Homo sapiens: one gene and its partner. The protein of the gene in region 1 binds, or shares a complex with, the protein of each later gene. Each region holds a gene or a part of one and is shown in the gene's direction. Other genes may lie near its edges. The genes, in order: SOST and LRP6.

The links.
Region 2: the proteins of SOST (region 1) and LRP6 are in contact, whole or in part, in a crystal structure (PDB 6L6R), measured with the Homo sapiens proteins. Residues at the interface, in NP_079513.1 of Homo sapiens: Leu115, Pro116, Asn117, Ala118, Ile119, Gly120, Arg121, Arg169, Thr171, Arg172, His174, Asn175, Gln176, Ser177; in NP_001401174.1 of Homo sapiens: Arg28, Asp52, Val70, Ser71, Glu73, Leu95, Ser96, Asp98, Glu115, Arg141, Trp157, Trp183, Asn185, Ala201, His226, Phe228, Trp242, Met269, Arg336, His361, Asp379, His404, Asp406, Thr422, Glu447, Arg449, Trp465, Trp491, Asn493, His534.

Annotation. Positions count from the first base shown.
Region 1 is NC_000017.11:43,755,076-43,764,211, reverse strand, and holds the start of SOST (sclerostin precursor), read left to right. Parts: upstream 1-5,420; 5' UTR 5,421-5,470; coding exon 5,471-5,690; intron 5,691-8,448; coding exon 8,449-8,870; 3' UTR 8,871-9,136. UniProt on the Homo sapiens protein: Negative regulator of bone growth that acts through inhibition of Wnt signaling and bone formation.
Region 2 is NC_000012.12:12,256,182-12,264,530, reverse strand, and holds part of LRP6 (low-density lipoprotein receptor-related protein 6 isoform b precursor), read left to right. Parts: intron 1-8,349. UniProt on the Homo sapiens protein: Component of the Wnt-Fzd-LRP5-LRP6 complex that triggers beta-catenin signaling through inducing aggregation of receptor-ligand complexes into ribosome-sized signalosomes.

The DNA of each region.
Region 1 (9,136 bases):
GAAAGCAACCAAGATGTCCTTCAGTAGATGACAGTAGGTGACTAGATAAACCGTGATACATCAAGACGATGGAGTATTACTCAGTGCTAAAAAAAAAAAATAAGCTGTTCATGCCATGAAAAGACATGGAGGAACCCCAAATGAATATTACTAACTGAAAGAAGCCAATCTGAAAAGACTATGTATGGGTATATTCCAACTCTATATGACATCCTGGAAAAGGCAAAAATAAAGGTACAGTAAAAAGATCAGTGGTTGCCAGGGGTTGGGGAAAGTCGGGGAGGGATGAATAGGCAGAGCAGATAGTTTTTTTGGACAATGAAAATACTGCCCATCTGTATGATACTATAATGGTAGATGTATGTCATTATACATTTGTCCAAAGCCATAGGATGTACAACACTAGTGCTGTGATGTAAACCATGGACTTCAGGTGATAATGATGTGTCATGTAGGCTCATCAATCATAGCAAATGCACCACTCTGGTGGCGGGATGTTGATAACGGGGGCAGCTGTACATGTGTGGGCACAGGACATAAATGAGAAATCTCTGTACCATCCACTCAGTTTTGCTGTGAACCTAAAAGTGCTCCAGAAAAAAAATAAAGTTTTTTTTAGAAAAAAGCATCTGAACCTTTTTTTCAGTGGCATTGATCACCTTCCATCTGGTAGTGGAGTTGTTTGGATGCGGAAATTATTTCTTCCATGGTATGCGAGCTCCTGGAGAGGGAGTGCGTGTCCCCCTTGCTTTATTAAACGTTTGGCGAGTGAACATCGGAAGAAGCAACTCGACAGAAACAAAAGCTGGTAAATAATCACATGGAAAAGCAGCTTTTCTGGAAATTAAGTTTCAACTGTTAAATTCAATGTTTAAAAAAATCGGCTGGGTGCGGTGGCTCCCGCCTGCAATCCCAGCACTTTATGGGATTGTGGGAACACCTGATGTCAGGAGTTCAAGACCAGCCTGGCCGACATGGCGAAACCCCATCTCTACAAAACAAATAAAAAAAATGCAAAAATTAGCTGGGTGTGGTGGCGGGAGTCTGTAGTCCTAGCTACTCGGGAGGCTGAGGCAGGAGAACTGCTTGAACCCAGGAGGTGGAGGTTATATGAGCCAAGATCACACCACTGCACTCCCGCCTGGGTGACAGAGCGAGACTCTGTCTCAAAAAAAAAAAAAAAAAAAAAAAAAAAAATCAACATCCCAAACCCAGTGTTGACAGTCTTATTTATGGGTTGAACTGCATTCCTCCCAAATGCATATATTGAAGTCCTAAGTCACAGTACCTGAGAATGTGACCTTATTTGGAAATAGGGCTATTACAGATGTAACTCGTTAAGATGAGGTCATTAGGCTGGGCCTAATCTAATATGCCTGACCTCCTTAGAAAAAAGGGAAAATTCGAACACAGAGAGAACACCATGTGAAGATGAAGGCAGGGATTGGGGGTGACACTTCTGCAAGCCAGTGAATGCCACAGCTTGTCAGCAGCCAGCAGAAGGCAGGTAAAAGGCCTTCCTCGCTGTCCTCGAAGGAACCAACTCTGCCAATGTCTTGAACTTGCACTCCTAACCTCCAGCTCTGTGAGACGACTTCTGTTGTTTATGCCACCCAATTTGTGGTACTTAGTTACGGCAGCCTCATCAAAGTACCACCTATGGGAGCCTCTATTTTGCAGGTGAGGGCGGGGACTGGGCTTTTTCTGGAAAACAGCCCTGCAATACCCTCATCAGACCACCAAACTCTTCACACTCCCTCAGACACAGCATTCACTTCCAGAAATAACTCTAAAGTTTTGTTTTGTTTTTTTAAACTTTGTGGAATACTACTCAGCCAAAAAAAAAAAAAAGAAAAGAAAAAGGAACATGTTACTGATATGTACAACTTGGATAATGGAAATAATGCTGAGTGAAAAAAAAATCCCCAAAGGCTACATACTAATTGATTCCATTTATATAACCTTTTTTTTTTTTTTTGAGACAGTCTCACTCTGTCACCCAGGCTGGAGCACAGTGGCGCGATCTCAGCTCACTGCAACTTCCGCCTCCTGAGTTCAAGCGATTCTCTTGCCTTAGCTTCCCAAGTAGCTGGGATTACAGGTGCGTGCCACCATGCCCAGCTAATTTTTGTATTTTTAGTAGAGACAGGGTTTCGCCATGTTGGCCAGGCTGGTCTCGAACTCCTGACCTCAAGTGATCTGCCTGCCTTGGCTTCCCAAAGTGCTGGGATTACATGAGTGAGCCACCGCACCTGGCCGCATTTATGTAACAATTTTGAAGTGAAAAAAAAAAATGACAGAAATGGAGATTAGATGAGTAGTTGCCAGGGGTTAGTTGTGGGAGGGAGGGAAAAGGAGGGAAGGAGGTGGGCAACAGGAGAAAGACTTGTGGTCACAGAGCTGTGCTTTATCTTGACTGTGGTGGATCCCCAAATTTACCCGTGACAAGATTGCATAGAACTAAGTATACACACACGTGAATGCGTGTGCACGCACACAGTAGAGGTTAAACCACGGGAGATGTGGGTAAGATTGGTAAATTGTGTCAATATCAATATCCTAGTTGTGATATTGTCCTATAGTTTCGCAAGGTGTTATTGTTGTGGGAAACTGGATAAAGGATACACGGAGTCTGCATTTTCTTTTTTTTATTTTTATTTTTTGAGACGGGGTCTCACTCTGTCATCCAGGCTGGAGTGCAGTGGCCCAAGTATGGCTCACTGCAGCCTCGACCTCAACCTCAAGTGAACCTCCCACCTCAGCCTCCCAAGTAGCTAAGACCACAGGCGTGCGACCCCATGCCCAGCTAATTTTTAAATTTTTTGTAGAGACTAGGCCTCACCATGTTGCCCAGGCTTTTATTTCTTATAAGTATATTTAAATTTATAATTATATCCACATTTTAAAATTTTAATTTAAAAAATTACTCTGAGGCCGGGCATTGTGGCTCATGCCTCTAATCCCCAGCACCTTGGGAGGCCGAGTTGGGCAGATCACCCGAGGTCAGAAGTTCGAGACCAGCCTGAGTAACATGGAGAAACCCCCGTCTCTACTAAAAATACAAAATTGGCCGGGCGTGGTGGTGCATTCCTGTAATCCCAGCTACTCGGGAGGCTGAGGCAGGAGAATTGCTTGAACCCAGGAGGTGGAGGTTGCAGTGAGCCAAGATTGTGCCACTGCACTGCAGCCTGGGCCACAGAGAGAATCTGCCAAAAAAAGAAAAAAAAAAAAATTTCAGCCGTACAAGGATGTTCATAGCAACCCTGCTGGAAATAGGAAAAAAAATTGGAAATAACCTAAACTACTCACAATAGGAATCAGCTAAAACCCTGGGGGTTTAATTCCAGGGAGTACTGTGAACAATGACAAGTTTGTGGACTGAGTAAAAATAAACAGCTGTCAATGACTTAACATTAAATGAAACAGCAGAAGATGTCACAGCAGGTTCTCGCTGAGCCATTCAGAGGGGTGTGGATCATTTAGAGGTTCAAGTCCACTGGATTCTTCTTTTTCCTTTTAATATTACTTCACTTCCAAATAAGGAAAGGAAAGGAAAGGAAATCACGTCCAGTCCTGAGACTTGCCATCCTGCAGTCACCCCTCCTTTTGTCTCCAGCAGGTGGCAGACGCGTTCCAGGGATGAATCCCACTGCCTCTGTTTAATGCAGACGGTCCAGCCGCTCCCAACAGCAGGTGGGGCTATAAGCATCCATCCTACCTGCTCAAGGAACCCAGGCATCAGAACTGCTCTCTCCCAAGTCCATTGCAAGAAGGCAGTCGTCTGGTCATGAGAGGGTTAACAGTCCACATTCCAGAGCAAGGGAAAAGGAGGCTGGAGGGTCATAGACAAGGGGAGGTGGCGCGGAGGGCCAGCTTCTCACAACACTACCGGCTCTGCTGGGAGAGATAGATCACCCCCAACAATGGCCACAGCTGTTTTCATCTGCCCTGAAGGAAACTGACTTAGGAAGCAGGTATCAGAGAGGGCCCTTCCTGAGGGGGCTTCTGTCTGGCTTGTAAAACTGTCAGAGCAGCTGCATTCATGTGTCGGATGATGGATGATGGAAAGGAGGACAGTCGGCTGCAGATGGACACAGCGACTTGCAAGTTGAGGCAGGTGGCAAAGGACTTGCAGAGGCTCTGCAGGTGGGGCATGCTGATTCATTGCCCAGTTAAAATACCAGAGGATCTGGGCAGCCTCTTCACAGGAGCTGCTTGTCCTCAAACAATCTGTCTTCAATGAAAGATTCCTCTGGCCTTCCTTTCTCTTCTTGCACCTCAGGTGTGAATCCTTCTCCCCCACGCCTCTACCTGCCCCCCCGCCCCCCGCCCCGGCCCTGTGTGGCTCATTATATGCAGGGCCAAGGCAGCATTTTCTCTTAGCTTCTTTGTGACCACTTGGTCCTGGGATGGCTTCATGGAACACATCCTGTGGTGTGCACCAATGAAGCTTTCCATACAGGACTCAAAACTGTTTTTGAAAAATGTAACCAGCTGGAAGACAAGAAAATAAAATGTCAGCACTAAAAACGCTGGCTGTGGCTTTTGCTAAGGAAAGGAATTTGGTGTTGTCTTCTCACACACACAGACTGGTTGGGGAAATGACTGTCTTCAGCACATCACCCTGCGAGCCACAGTGAGTGCCCTGGCTCAGAAGTGCCTGTCACAGTGCACAGGATCCCTGAGGAGCATGAGCTGGGATTTCCTCTGTGCTGTCCACCACAGGAGCCTGAGTGACCAGCGCATCCTCGATTTGTAACCAGAATCCTGCCCTCTCTCCCAAGCGGGCACCCTTGCTCTGACCCTCTAGTTCTCTCTCTTGCCTTCCAGAGAATACCAAGAGAGGCTTTCTTGGTTAGGACAATGAATGCTGAGACTTGTGGAGTTGGGACCAATGGGATTTCTTTAAAAGCATCTTTTTGCCTCTGGCTGGGTCTATGGGGGTCAAACAGAAACGCCTTGGGCCATTTGTTGGTGGGGTGACAAATGAACTTGGCCTGAGAAATGGAATAGGCCGGGCTCAGCCCCGCGAAGCACTCAGAACTGCACATTTTCTTTGTTGAGCGGGTCCACAGTTTGTTTTGAGAATGCCCGAGGGCCCAGGGAGACAGACAATTAAAAGCCGGAGCTCATTTTGATATCTGAAAACCACAGCCGCCAGCACGTGGGAGGTGCCGGAGAGCAGGCTTGGGCCTTGCCTCACACGCCCCCTCTCTCTGGGTCACCTGGGAGTGCCAGCAGCAATTTGGAAGTTTGCTGAGCTAGAGGAGAAGTCTTTGGGGAGGGTTTGCTCTGAGCACACCCCTTTCCCTCCCTCCGGGGCTGAGGGAAACATGGGACCAGCCCTGCCCCAGCCTGTCCTCATTGGCTGGCATGAAGCAGAGAGGGGCTTTAAAAAGGCGACCGTGTCTCGGCTGGAGACCAGAGCCTGTGCTACTGGAAGGTGGCGTGCCCTCCTCTGGCTGGTACCATGCAGCTCCCACTGGCCCTGTGTCTCGTCTGCCTGCTGGTACACACAGCCTTCCGTGTAGTGGAGGGCCAGGGGTGGCAGGCGTTCAAGAATGATGCCACGGAAATCATCCCCGAGCTCGGAGAGTACCCCGAGCCTCCACCGGAGCTGGAGAACAACAAGACCATGAACCGGGCGGAGAACGGAGGGCGGCCTCCCCACCACCCCTTTGAGACCAAAGGTATGGGGTGGAGGAGAGAATTCTTAGTAAAAGATCCTGGGGAGGTTTTAGAAACTTCTCTTTGGGAGGCTTGGAAGACTGGGGTAGACCCAGTGAAGATTGCTGGCCTCTGCCAGCACTGGTCGAGGAACAGTCTTGCCTGGAGGTGGGGGAAGAATGGCTCGCTGGTGCAGCCTTCAAATTCAGGTGCAGAGGCATGAGGCAACAGACGCTGGTGAGAGCCCAGGGCAGGGAGGACGCTGGGGTGGTGAGGGTATGGCATCAGGGCATCAGAACAGGCTCAGGGGCTCAGAAAAGAAAAGGTTTCAAAGAATCTCCTCCTGGGAATATAGGAGCCACGTCCAGCTGCTGGTACCACTGGGAAGGGAACAAGGTAAGGGAGCCTCCCATCCACAGAACAGCACCTGTGGGGCACCGGACACTCTATGCTGGTGGTGGCTGTCCCCACCACACAGACCCACATCATGGAATCCCCAGGAGGTGAACCCCCAGCTCGAAGGGGAAGAAACAGGTTCCAGGCACTCAGTAACTTGGTAGTGAGAAGAGCTGAGGTGTGAACCTGGTTTGATCCAACTGCAAGATAGCCCTGGTGTGTGGGGGGGTGTGGGGGACAGATCTCCACAAAGCAGTGGGGAGGAAGGCCAGAGAGGCACCCCTGCAGTGTGCATTGCCCACGGCCTGCCCAGGGAGCTGGCACTTGAAGGAATGGGAGTTTTCGGCACAGTTTTAGCCCCTGACATGGGTGCAGCTGAGTCCAGGCCCTGGAGGGGAGAGCAGCATCCTCTGTGCAGGAGTAGGGACATCTGTCCTCAGCAGCCACCCCAGTCCCAACCTTGCCTCATTCCAGGGGAGGGAGAAGGAAGAGGAACCCTGGGTTCCTGGTCAGGCCTGCACAGAGAAGCCCAGGTGACAGTGTGCATCTGGCTCTATAATTGGCAGGAATCCTGAGGCCATGGGGGCGTCTGAAATGACACTTCAGACTAAGAGCTTCCCTGTCCTCTGGCCATTATCCAGGTGGCAGAGAAGTCCACTGCCCAGGCTCCTGGACCCCAGCCCTCCCCGCCTCACAACCTGTTGGGACTATGGGGTGCTAAAAAGGGCAACTGCATGGGAGGCCAGCCAGGACCCTCCGTCTTCAAAATGGAGGACAAGGGCGCCTCCCCCCACAGCTCCCCTTCTAGGCAAGGTCAGCTGGGCTCCAGCGACTGCCTGAAGGGCTGTAAGGAACCCAAACACAAAATGTCCACCTTGCTGGACTCCCACGAGAGGCCACAGCCCCTGAGGAAGCCACATGCTCAAAACAAAGTCATGATCTGCAGAGGAAGTGCCTGGCCTAGGGGCGCTATTCTCGAAAAGCCGCAAAATGCCCCCTTCCCTGGGCAAATGCCCCCCTGACCACACACACATTCCAGCCCTGCAGAGGTGAGGATGCAAACCAGCCCACAGACCAGAAAGCAGCCCCAGACGATGGCAGTGGCCACATCTCCCCTGCTGTGCTTGCTCTTCAGAGTGGGGGTGGGGGGTGGCCTTCTCTGTCCCCTCTCTGGTTTGGTCTTAAGACTATTTTTCATTCTTTCTTGTCACATTGGAACTATCCCCATGAAACCTTTGGGGGTGGACTGGTACTCACACGACGACCAGCTATTTAAAAAGCTCCCACCCATCTAAGTCCACCATAGGAGACATGGTCAAGGTGTGTGCAGGGGATCAGGCCAGGCCTCGGAGCCCAATCTCTGCCTGCCCAGGGAGTATCACCATGAGGCGCCCATTCAGATAACACAGAACAAGAAATGTGCCCAGCAGAGAGCCAGGTCAATGTTTGTGGCAGCTGAACCTGTAGGTTTTGGGTCAGAGCTCAGGGCCCCTATGGTAGGAAAGTAACGACAGTAAAAAGCAGCCCTCAGCTCCATCCCCCAGCCCAGCCTCCCATGGATGCTCGAACGCAGAGCCTCCACTCTTGCCGGAGCCAAAAGGTGCTGGGACCCCAGGGAAGTGGAGTCCGGAGATGCAGCCCAGCCTTTTGGGCAAGTTCTTTTCTCTGGCTGGGCCTCAGTATTCTCATTGATAATGAGGGGGTTGGACACACTGCCTTTGATTCCTTTCAAGTCTAATGAATTCCTGTCCTGATCACCTCCCCTTCAGTCCCTCGCCTCCACAGCAGCTGCCCTGATTTATTACCTTCAATTAACCTCTACTCCTTTCTCCATCCCCTGTCCACCCCTCCCAAGTGGCTGGAAAAGGAATTTGGGAGAAGCCAGAGCCAGGCAGAAGGTGTGCTGAGTACTTACCCTGCCCAGGCCAGGGACCCTGCGGCACAAGTGTGGCTTAAATCATAAGAAGACCCCAGAAGAGAAATGATAATAATAATACATAACAGCCGACGCTTTCAGCTATATGTGCCAAATGGTATTTTCTGCATTGCGTGTGTAATGGATTAACTCGCAATGCTTGGGGCGGCCCATTTTGCAGACAGGAAGAAGAGAGAGGTTAAGGAACTTGCCCAAGATGACACCTGCAGTGAGCGATGGAGCCCTGGTGTTTGAACCCCAGCAGTCATTTGGCTCCGAGGGGACAGGGTGCGCAGGAGAGCTTTCCACCAGCTCTAGAGCATCTGGGACCTTCCTGCAATAGATGTTCAGGGGCAAAAGCCTCTGGAGACAGGCTTGGCAAAAGCAGGGCTGGGGTGGAGAGAGACGGGCCGGTCCAGGGCAGGGGTGGCCAGGCGGGCGGCCACCCTCACGCGCGCCTCTCTCCACAGACGTGTCCGAGTACAGCTGCCGCGAGCTGCACTTCACCCGCTACGTGACCGATGGGCCGTGCCGCAGCGCCAAGCCGGTCACCGAGCTGGTGTGCTCCGGCCAGTGCGGCCCGGCGCGCCTGCTGCCCAACGCCATCGGCCGCGGCAAGTGGTGGCGACCTAGTGGGCCCGACTTCCGCTGCATCCCCGACCGCTACCGCGCGCAGCGCGTGCAGCTGCTGTGTCCCGGTGGTGAGGCGCCGCGCGCGCGCAAGGTGCGCCTGGTGGCCTCGTGCAAGTGCAAGCGCCTCACCCGCTTCCACAACCAGTCGGAGCTCAAGGACTTCGGGACCGAGGCCGCTCGGCCGCAGAAGGGCCGGAAGCCGCGGCCCCGCGCCCGGAGCGCCAAAGCCAACCAGGCCGAGCTGGAGAACGCCTACTAGAGCCCGCCCGCGCCCCTCCCCACCGGCGGGCGCCCCGGCCCTGAACCCGCGCCCCACATTTCTGTCCTCTGCGCGTGGTTTGATTGTTTATATTTCATTGTAAATGCCTGCAACCCAGGGCAGGGGGCTGAGACCTTCCAGGCCCTGAGGAATCCCGGGCGCCGGCAAGGCCCCCCTCAGCCCGCCAGCTGAGGGGTCCCACGGGGCAGGGGAGGGAATTGAGAGTCACAGACACTGAGCCACGCAGCCCCGCCTCTGGGGCCGCC
Region 2 (8,349 bases), on another chromosome or scaffold:
GTCCTGTAGCCCTGTTGAATTAGTAGCAGAAAGCCAGGGAATACTGTTAGTGCTGTGTCCCTATCTCTATCATCACATGACAAGGTATAAAGGAAAGATTTGGGAATTTCAATACTAAAATCTTGGATTTAAAGCCCAAGTGTCACAACTTCATAACTTTGTGGTTCTGGTCTAGTCCGCTTCTCTAGGTCTCAGTTTCTTTACTGGTAGTGTGGATAATGATACCTGACTAGTTTGCAGGGTTATTGGGTGTTTTAAATGAAATAATATGGAGTACCTTGTTAATGTTACTTTTTGCTATAATTTTTGCTTGTTCAGGGACATATCCTCAAATGCTTTCATGATTTGAGATTTAATTTGTATAACGTTCACAATTTTTTTTTTTTTAAAGAGACAAAGTCTTGCTTCATCACTCAGTCTGGGGTGCAGTGGTGTAATCACAGCTCATTGCAGTCTCAAAGTCTTGGGCTTAAGTGATCCTCCTGCTTCATCCTCCCAAAGCTCTGAACTATAGGCACGTGCCACTATGCCCCCAATTTTTTGTAGATATGGGGTTGGTGTGGGGGTGTCTTGATATGTTGCCCAGGCTGGTCTCCAACTCCTGGCCTCAAGTGATCCTCTCAAAGTGCTGGGATTACAGGTTACAGGTGTGAGCCACCATGCTTGGCCAGGTTCACGAATTCCTATTTTTTTTTTGGAGGTAGGGTCTTGCTCTGTTGCCTAGGCTGGAGTGCAGTGGCATGATCGCTGCTCACTGCAGCCTGGACCTCCTGTGTTCATGTGATCTTCCCACCTCAGCCTCCCAAGTAGCTGGGACCACAGTTGTGTGCCATAACACTTGGCTAATTTTTATAGAGCCAGAGTTTTGCTATGTTGCCCAGGATGGTCTTAAACTCCTGGGCTCAAGTGATCCTCCCACCTCCGCCTCTCGGAGTTCTGGGATTACAGGTGCAGATTCACACATTCTTTTTTTTTTTTTTGAGACGGATTCTTGCTCTGTTGCCCAGGCTGGAGTGCATTGGTGTGATCTCCGCTCACTGCAAGCTCTGCCTGCCGGGTTCACGCCTTTCTCCTGCCTCAGCCTCCTGAGTAGCTGGGACTCATTTTTTTGTATTTTTTAGTAGAGACGGGGTTTCACTGTGTTAGCCAGGATGGTCTCCATCTCCTGACCTCGTGATCCGCCCACCTCGGCCTCCCAAAGTCCTGGAATTACAGGCGTGAGCCACCACGCCCGGCCAGATTCACACATTCTTTTTTTTTTTTTAAAGACAGAGTTTCGCTCTTGTTGCTCAGGCTAGAGTGCAATGGCATGATCTCGGCTCACTGCAACCTCCGCCTCCCGGGTTCAAGCGATACTCCTACCTCAACCTCCTGAGTAGCTGGAATTACAGGCATGCACCACCATGCCCAGCTAATTTTTTTTTTTTTTTTGTATTTTTAGTAGAGATGGGGTTTCTCCTTGTTGGTCAGGCTGGTCTCGAACTCCCGACCTCAGGTGATCTGCCCATCTCGGCCTCCCAAAGTGCTGGGATTACAGGTGTGAGCCACCACGCCTGGCCCAGATTCACACATTCTTAAAAGTGAAAGGGATCTTGGTCGTTTGAGCCTCACCAGTTTATTTGTAAGTGGGGAAACTCAGATTCAGAGATACTGTAATTTAATAAAGGTAGGTTAATTAAAGATGGGGCAGGGATTTATTATTCATTCTTTTAGCAAATATGTATGGAATACCTCCTATATGTCAGCCTCTGGTACTGATGGTGAGTAAAACAATGTGTTTCCTAATCTAACGGGCCTCACAGTTTAGGTTGCCATCCTTACCATTTTCTTAGTTCCATTCGGATACTGATGAGAAAAAATAATATCTGATCTTCTGCTGGAAGTATTTTTGATAAGAATATAGGTTTTGGAATACCATCGGTGTGTGTAATCTGTGAAATACTATTTCTTAGCTTGCTTTTTTTTTTTTTTTTGAGACGGAGTCTCGCTCTGTCGCTCAGGCTGAAGTGCAGTGCCGCGATCTTGGCTCACTGCAATCTCTGCCTCCTTGGTTCAAGCGATTCTCCTGTCTCAGCCTCCTGAGTAGCTGAGACTACAGGTGCCTGCCACCATGCCTGACTTATTTTTGTATTTTTGTATTTTTTTGGTTTTTGAGACGGTATCTCACCCTGTCGCCCAGGCTGGAGTGCAGTGGCATGATCTCAGCTCACTGCAACCTCTCCCTCCTGGGTTCAAGCAATTCTCCTGTTTCAGCCTCCTGAGTAGCTGGGACCACAGGCTCACACCACCATGCCCGGATAATTTTTATATTTTTAGTAGAGACGGGCTTTCACCATATTGGTCAGGATGATCTTGAACTCCTGACCTCAAGTTATCCACCTGCCTTGACCTCCCAAAGTGCTGGGATTACAGGTGTGAGCCACTGTGCCCGGCCTAATTTTTGTATTTTTAGTAGAGATGGGGTTTCACCATATTGGTCAGGCTGGTCTCGAACTCCTGACCTCAGGTGATCCACCCACCTCTGCCTCCCAAAGTGTTGGGATTACAGGCGTGAGCCACCGCGCCTGGCCTTTTTAGCTTTTTTTGAGGAGGCTTGTTATATAAAAATTCTTCGTTACTTTTTTTTGTTTTGGTGGGCTGGTAAATATTGTTGGAACAAACCACTAATGTTTTGCATCTTGTATTTCTGTAGAAGCGATCCTTTCTTCCTTTAAAATCAGGTGTTATAAAGTCTTGGGGAAGTAGAACAAATTTTGGAGTGGCAATCAGGAGAATTAAGTTATGGTTCTAAATTTGCTGTGTAACCTTGAGTGATCTCTGTACACTTTATTTGGAGATTAGAATTCATGTTAACACATTAAGGGTTCTGAAAAGTCCTGAGGTAAAGAGACCGGTTTTAACTTTGTTTAACCTATTATTTTCCAAACTTGTCAAGTATTACATTGATATTTGATGACAGTTTCATATAGTTAATTTGATACTGTCATTCCTGTTTACTTACCTGGCTTCAGGTTTGCTCATTTGGCTAAACAATAATTTGTCTGGTTATTAAATTTTAAGGTTTTAGCTTGTTATTATCAGAAGGGCTAATAGTGATTTCCTGTGGTTCAATTTTTTTTTTTTTTTTTGAGACGGAGTCTTGCTCTGTCGCCCAGGCTGGAGTGCAGCGGCGTGATCTCAGCTCACTACAAGCTCCGCCTCCCGGGTTCACGCCATTCTCCTGCCTCAGCCTATAGGCGCCCGCCACCACGCCCGATTAATTTTTTGTATTTTTAGTAGAGATGGGGTTTCACCGTGTTAGCCAGGATGGTCTCGATCTCCTGATCTCGTGATCCGCCCGCCTCGGCCTCCCAAACTGTTGGGATTACAGGCGTGAGCCACCGCGCCCGGCCATGATTCAATTTTTAAGAGATTTTTTTCTTTGCTTTAATTGGAAGTTTTTCCATTTGCTGTACTGAACTACTGTGTCCTTATATATGCTTTGGCTGTCAGAAAGGACTGTTTTAAATATCAAAGGAGATTCTGGGAAGGGATATATTAATGGAAAATATTTTATGAGAACGTATATTTTTTGTTTAAATATTTTGCGCATACTGGAAAAATAATGTTTAGTGCTATTTAGGCCATGGGTAACTACTCTGAGAAAGATTATTTTCATCGTAGAAATTCTATTGAAAGTTTACATTTAGAGAAGATTATATGGAAGGTACTATAGCAGAAAGACATGGCTTGTTGTTAAACAGGCCAAGTTAAACTCTTCTGCCGCTTTGTGTTCCTTTGGACAAGTTATTTCCTTTCCTGTTAGGTGGGGATATAACTTGCAAGACTTCTGTGAGAACTGACGAAATGTTTGTAAAGGGGTAGTAGAACGCACAGTCAATAGTAGACATTGAATAAATGGTTGCTATTATTAAGATGGCCGAATTAAAAGAAACATTATACTCTGGAAAGACTGGTAAAACATTTTAAGTGTCGCTATGTCCTGGGCACTGTTTTTGGCAGTTGATAGTTTTAGGCCAGTGGTTTTGGAATTTTTTTTGATTCTTCTGCAACTGGAATAAAAGCTCCATAAAATACTTTTACTTATGGAAATTTCTGTTTTGTTTGATATAAAACGGAATGACACTAAATTTTTTTTCTTTTTTTTTTTTTTGAGACGGAGTCTTGCTCAGTCGCCCAGGCTGGAGTGCAGTGGCGTAATCTCGGCTCACTGCAAGCTCCGCCCCCCGGGTTCACGCCATTCTCCTGCCTCAGCCTCCCGAGTAGCTGGGACTGCAGGCCCCGCCAACACGCCCGGCTAATTTTTTTTGTATTTTAGTGGAGACGGGGTTTCACCATGTTAGCCAGGTTGGTCTCCATCTCCTGACCTGGTGATCCAGCCGCCTCGGCCTCCCAAAGTGCTGGGATTACAGGCGTGAACCACCGCGCCTGGCCTAAATTTATTTCTAAAGGATTGCAGCCATAACTATTTTAGGTGATGATTATTATAAATAAGCTACAGAACAGACAGTTCAAATGATTGTGATACTTATTAAAGAGTTAAGCATGGGCAAAATAATTTTATCAAGACATCTAATTGAGAAATTGCATTATTTGTTTACAACAATTATTCAGTTGGTGGATTTCTTTCTGCAGGATGGCTGAATGCTATACTGAGTTTCTGCATTGCATGTTTTCACTTCGGATAAGGGTGTTTATCTTCTATAAAGTAAGCCTCACTTCAGTGAATAAAACACTGTTTTATATGAGTAACTTTGAAATTTAGTCAAATATACAGACTAGGCAATCTAAGAACAGGCTGTTTGCTCTTAAAATTATTTATTTTAAAATACAATTTGTCAGTACATAAATGCAAGGAAACAAGGTTATTTGGTATTATTAACATATGCTTTTGTTTCTCAAGCTGTTCGTGTTTGCGGCAGTGAGTATTCTCACTAAAGGTTCAAGCTGTTCGGGTGTGAGGCTAGAAACTTTTAAAATGTGCTTGGACTCTTCGGTGAAAATTATTGATACTTTGATGCTGTGATCCTTTTAGCGGTATCATAACTTGTAGTTTCTGTAATATCTTGCTTGGAAGGACCTTGTATAAGTGCTTAAATATTTTGGAACTAATTTCAGGAGGAGATTGGGGATGCAAAATGAAATTATATTTTTAGGCAGAAAACTACATTAAGTTATGTAAGTTATTAACACCAGGCCTAAAGTTATTGATGAGACTCTCAATAAAAATAACATGACCAGCAGTAGTCTTTTTTTTTTTTTTTTTTTGAGATGGAGTCTCGCTCTGTCACCCAGGCTGGAGTGCCGTGCCATGATCTTGGCTCACTGTGACATCTGCCTCCTGGGTTCAAGTGATTCTCCTGTCTCAGCCTCCCAAGTAGCTGGGATTAGTAGGCGCCCACTATCATGCCTACCTAATTTTTGTGTTTTTAGTAGAGATGGGGTTTCACCATGTTGGCCAGGCTGGTCTCGAACTCCTGACCTCAGGTGGTCCACCCGCTTTGGCCTTCCAAAGTGCTGGGCTTACAGGCGTGAGCCTGCTGCACACAGCTGTCATTTTTTTTTTCCCAAGAAAATAGTCACCCAAATATTGGAAACCTACCTTTATCAAATTATGTATGTTTAACCAGGAGGCTATTTTCTCTAATGGTCTTAGTCATTGTTTTATCACTACAAGACCCAAACTACAAGTAAAGGACTGCAAGGGATAGGAGTCTTCCTCACTAATGATTAGCTTTATTGGTACGTATAATTTAAGTACTGTATATCCATATATCCAGTTTAAAGATACTATGTTTTGCAAGTCTGAGAAAGGTGACGAGTGAACTTCATTACCATGAATTCTTAGCTACACATTATATTGTCTTTATTTGTAACCTTCTAGATTTATGCTAATGCAGAAATAGCTCTTTGATGAAAAGTTTTTGAAGAGTAGACCTTTTTCCCCTTTATATGCACCATGTACCAGAGGTTTGCACATATTGAGCACTGTAAATTTTACATTTAAAGTAATATAAAAAGATGTGAATTTTTATGACATTTATTTGGAATGCCATTTTGTGTTTTGACTCAATCGTTCATTAGCTATAGTTAAATTATAAATTTGTAACGATTACAAAGATTTCTTAGTCTGGGTCATGGTGGCTCACACCTGTAATCCCATCTCTTTAGGAGGCCAAGGCGAGAGGATCACTTGAGGTCAGGAGTTCAAGACCAGCCTGGGAAACATCTATAAAAAATTAAAAAATTATCTGGTCACGATGGCACATGCCTGTAGTTTCAGCTGCTTAGAAGGCTGAGGCAGGAGGATCACTTGAGCCCAGGAACTCAAGGCTACAGTGAGCCATGATCATGCCACTGCACTCCATATCACAGACAAAACCCTGTCTTTCAAAATAAATAAATAAAGATTTCTTAGCATAGATTAGATATGTTAAATAGACTACTAAAAAATCAGCATATTCATATCTGAGATTGAATTCAAGGTGTGGACTATGTAACGTGTTTTCTGGTTTTAGGATATAACTATTGCACTGATATAATTAGTTTTTTTTTTTTTTTTGAGACAGGGTCTCACTGTGTTTCCTAGGCTGGAGTGTGGTGTGATGCTATCATGGCTCACTGCAGCCTGGACCTCCTGGTCTCAGGCGATCCTCCTGCCTCAGCTTCCAGAGTAGCTGGGACTATAGGCACGTGCTACCACGCCCGGCTCATTTTTAATTTTTTTTTTTTTTTTTTTTTTTTTTTTTTTGTAGAGACAGGGTCTTACTATGTTGCTCAGACTGGTCTCGAATTCCTGGGCTCAAGTGATCCTCCTGCCTTGGTTTCCCAAAGTGCTTGCGATTACAGGCATGAGCCACCATGCCTGGCCTCAAGTACTTTTTTCTTTCTTTCTTTTTTTTTTTTCATTAAGCCCTTTCTATCAAGTACTTTTTTTTTTTTTTTTCCTTGAGAGGGAGTCTTGCTCTGTCGCCCAGGCTGGAGTGCAGTGGCGTGATCTCGGCTCACTGCAAGCTCCGCCTCCCAGATTCATGCCATTCTCCCGCCTCAGCTTCCCAAGTAGCTGGGACTACAGGCGCCCACCACCACGCCCAGCTAATTTTTTTTGTATTTTTTTAGTAGAGACGGGGTTTTACCGTGTTAGCCAGGATGGTCTGATCTCCTGACCTCGTGATCCACCCGCCTCGGCCTCCCAAAGTGCTGGGATTACAGGCGTGAGCCACCGCACCCGGCCTGTCAAGTACTTTTTTAAACCAAGTTTTTTGGAGCTATAATTCACATACAGTAAAAATCTCCATTTTACAATGTCTAGTTCGGTGGCTTTTAGTATACTCACAGGGTTGTAAAACATCACCACTATCTCATTCCAGAACGCTTATCATCCCCTGCTCCCTCAAAACCCATACATTTCCCATTTCTCCCTTCCCTCAGCCTCTGGTAACCATGAATTTACTTTCTGTCTCTATGGATTTGCTTACTCTGAATATTTCATATAAATGGAATAAAATATGTGGCCTTTTGTGTCTAGCTTCTATCACTTAGCATTTTCAGGGTTCATTCATGTTGCATGTGTCAGTACTTCATTCCTTTTAATGGCTGAGTAATCCATTGTATGGATATATTAAATACTTTCAAATGAGTGTGGGTTTGATTATTGGAGTCTTTACCTTGAGAAATTATTTCTGAATCTCAGCTTTTGATACGTTAAAAAAATCTGTTTTTTTTGAAACAGAGTCTTGCTTCATCACCCAAGGAGGAGTGCAGTGGCACAATCTCTGCTCACTGCAACCTCTGCCTCCTGGGTTCAAGTGATTCTCATGCCTCAGCCTCCTGAGTAGCTGGGACTACAGGCGTGTGCCACCATGCTGGCTAATTTTTGTATTTTTAGTAGAGAGGGGGTTTGGCTATGTTGGTCAGGCTGGTCTTGACCTCCTGACCTCAAGTGATCTGCCTGCCTTGGCTCCCAAAGTGCTGGGATTACAGGCATGAGCCACCACTCTGGCCTATGTTTGTTTGTTTGTTTTGAGCTGGTGTCTCTGTCACCCAGGCTGGAGTGCAGTGGCGCGATCATTGCTCACTGCAGCCTGGACCTTCCCAGGCTCCGGTGATCCTTCCAACTAAGTTTTTGTATTTTTTATAGAGATGGGGTTTCACCATGTTGCTCAGGCTGGCCTTGAACTCCTGGGCTCGGTGATACACCCGCCTCTGCCTCCCAGAGTGCTGGGATTACAGGCATGAGCCACCGCGCCTGGCCTAAAAAATATTTTAAGTTCCTGTTTTTCTGCTGGAGAAGCACTAAATAGTTTACCAGTATCTCGTGTTTCTGAATAGCCCTGTCAATCGTCCTGT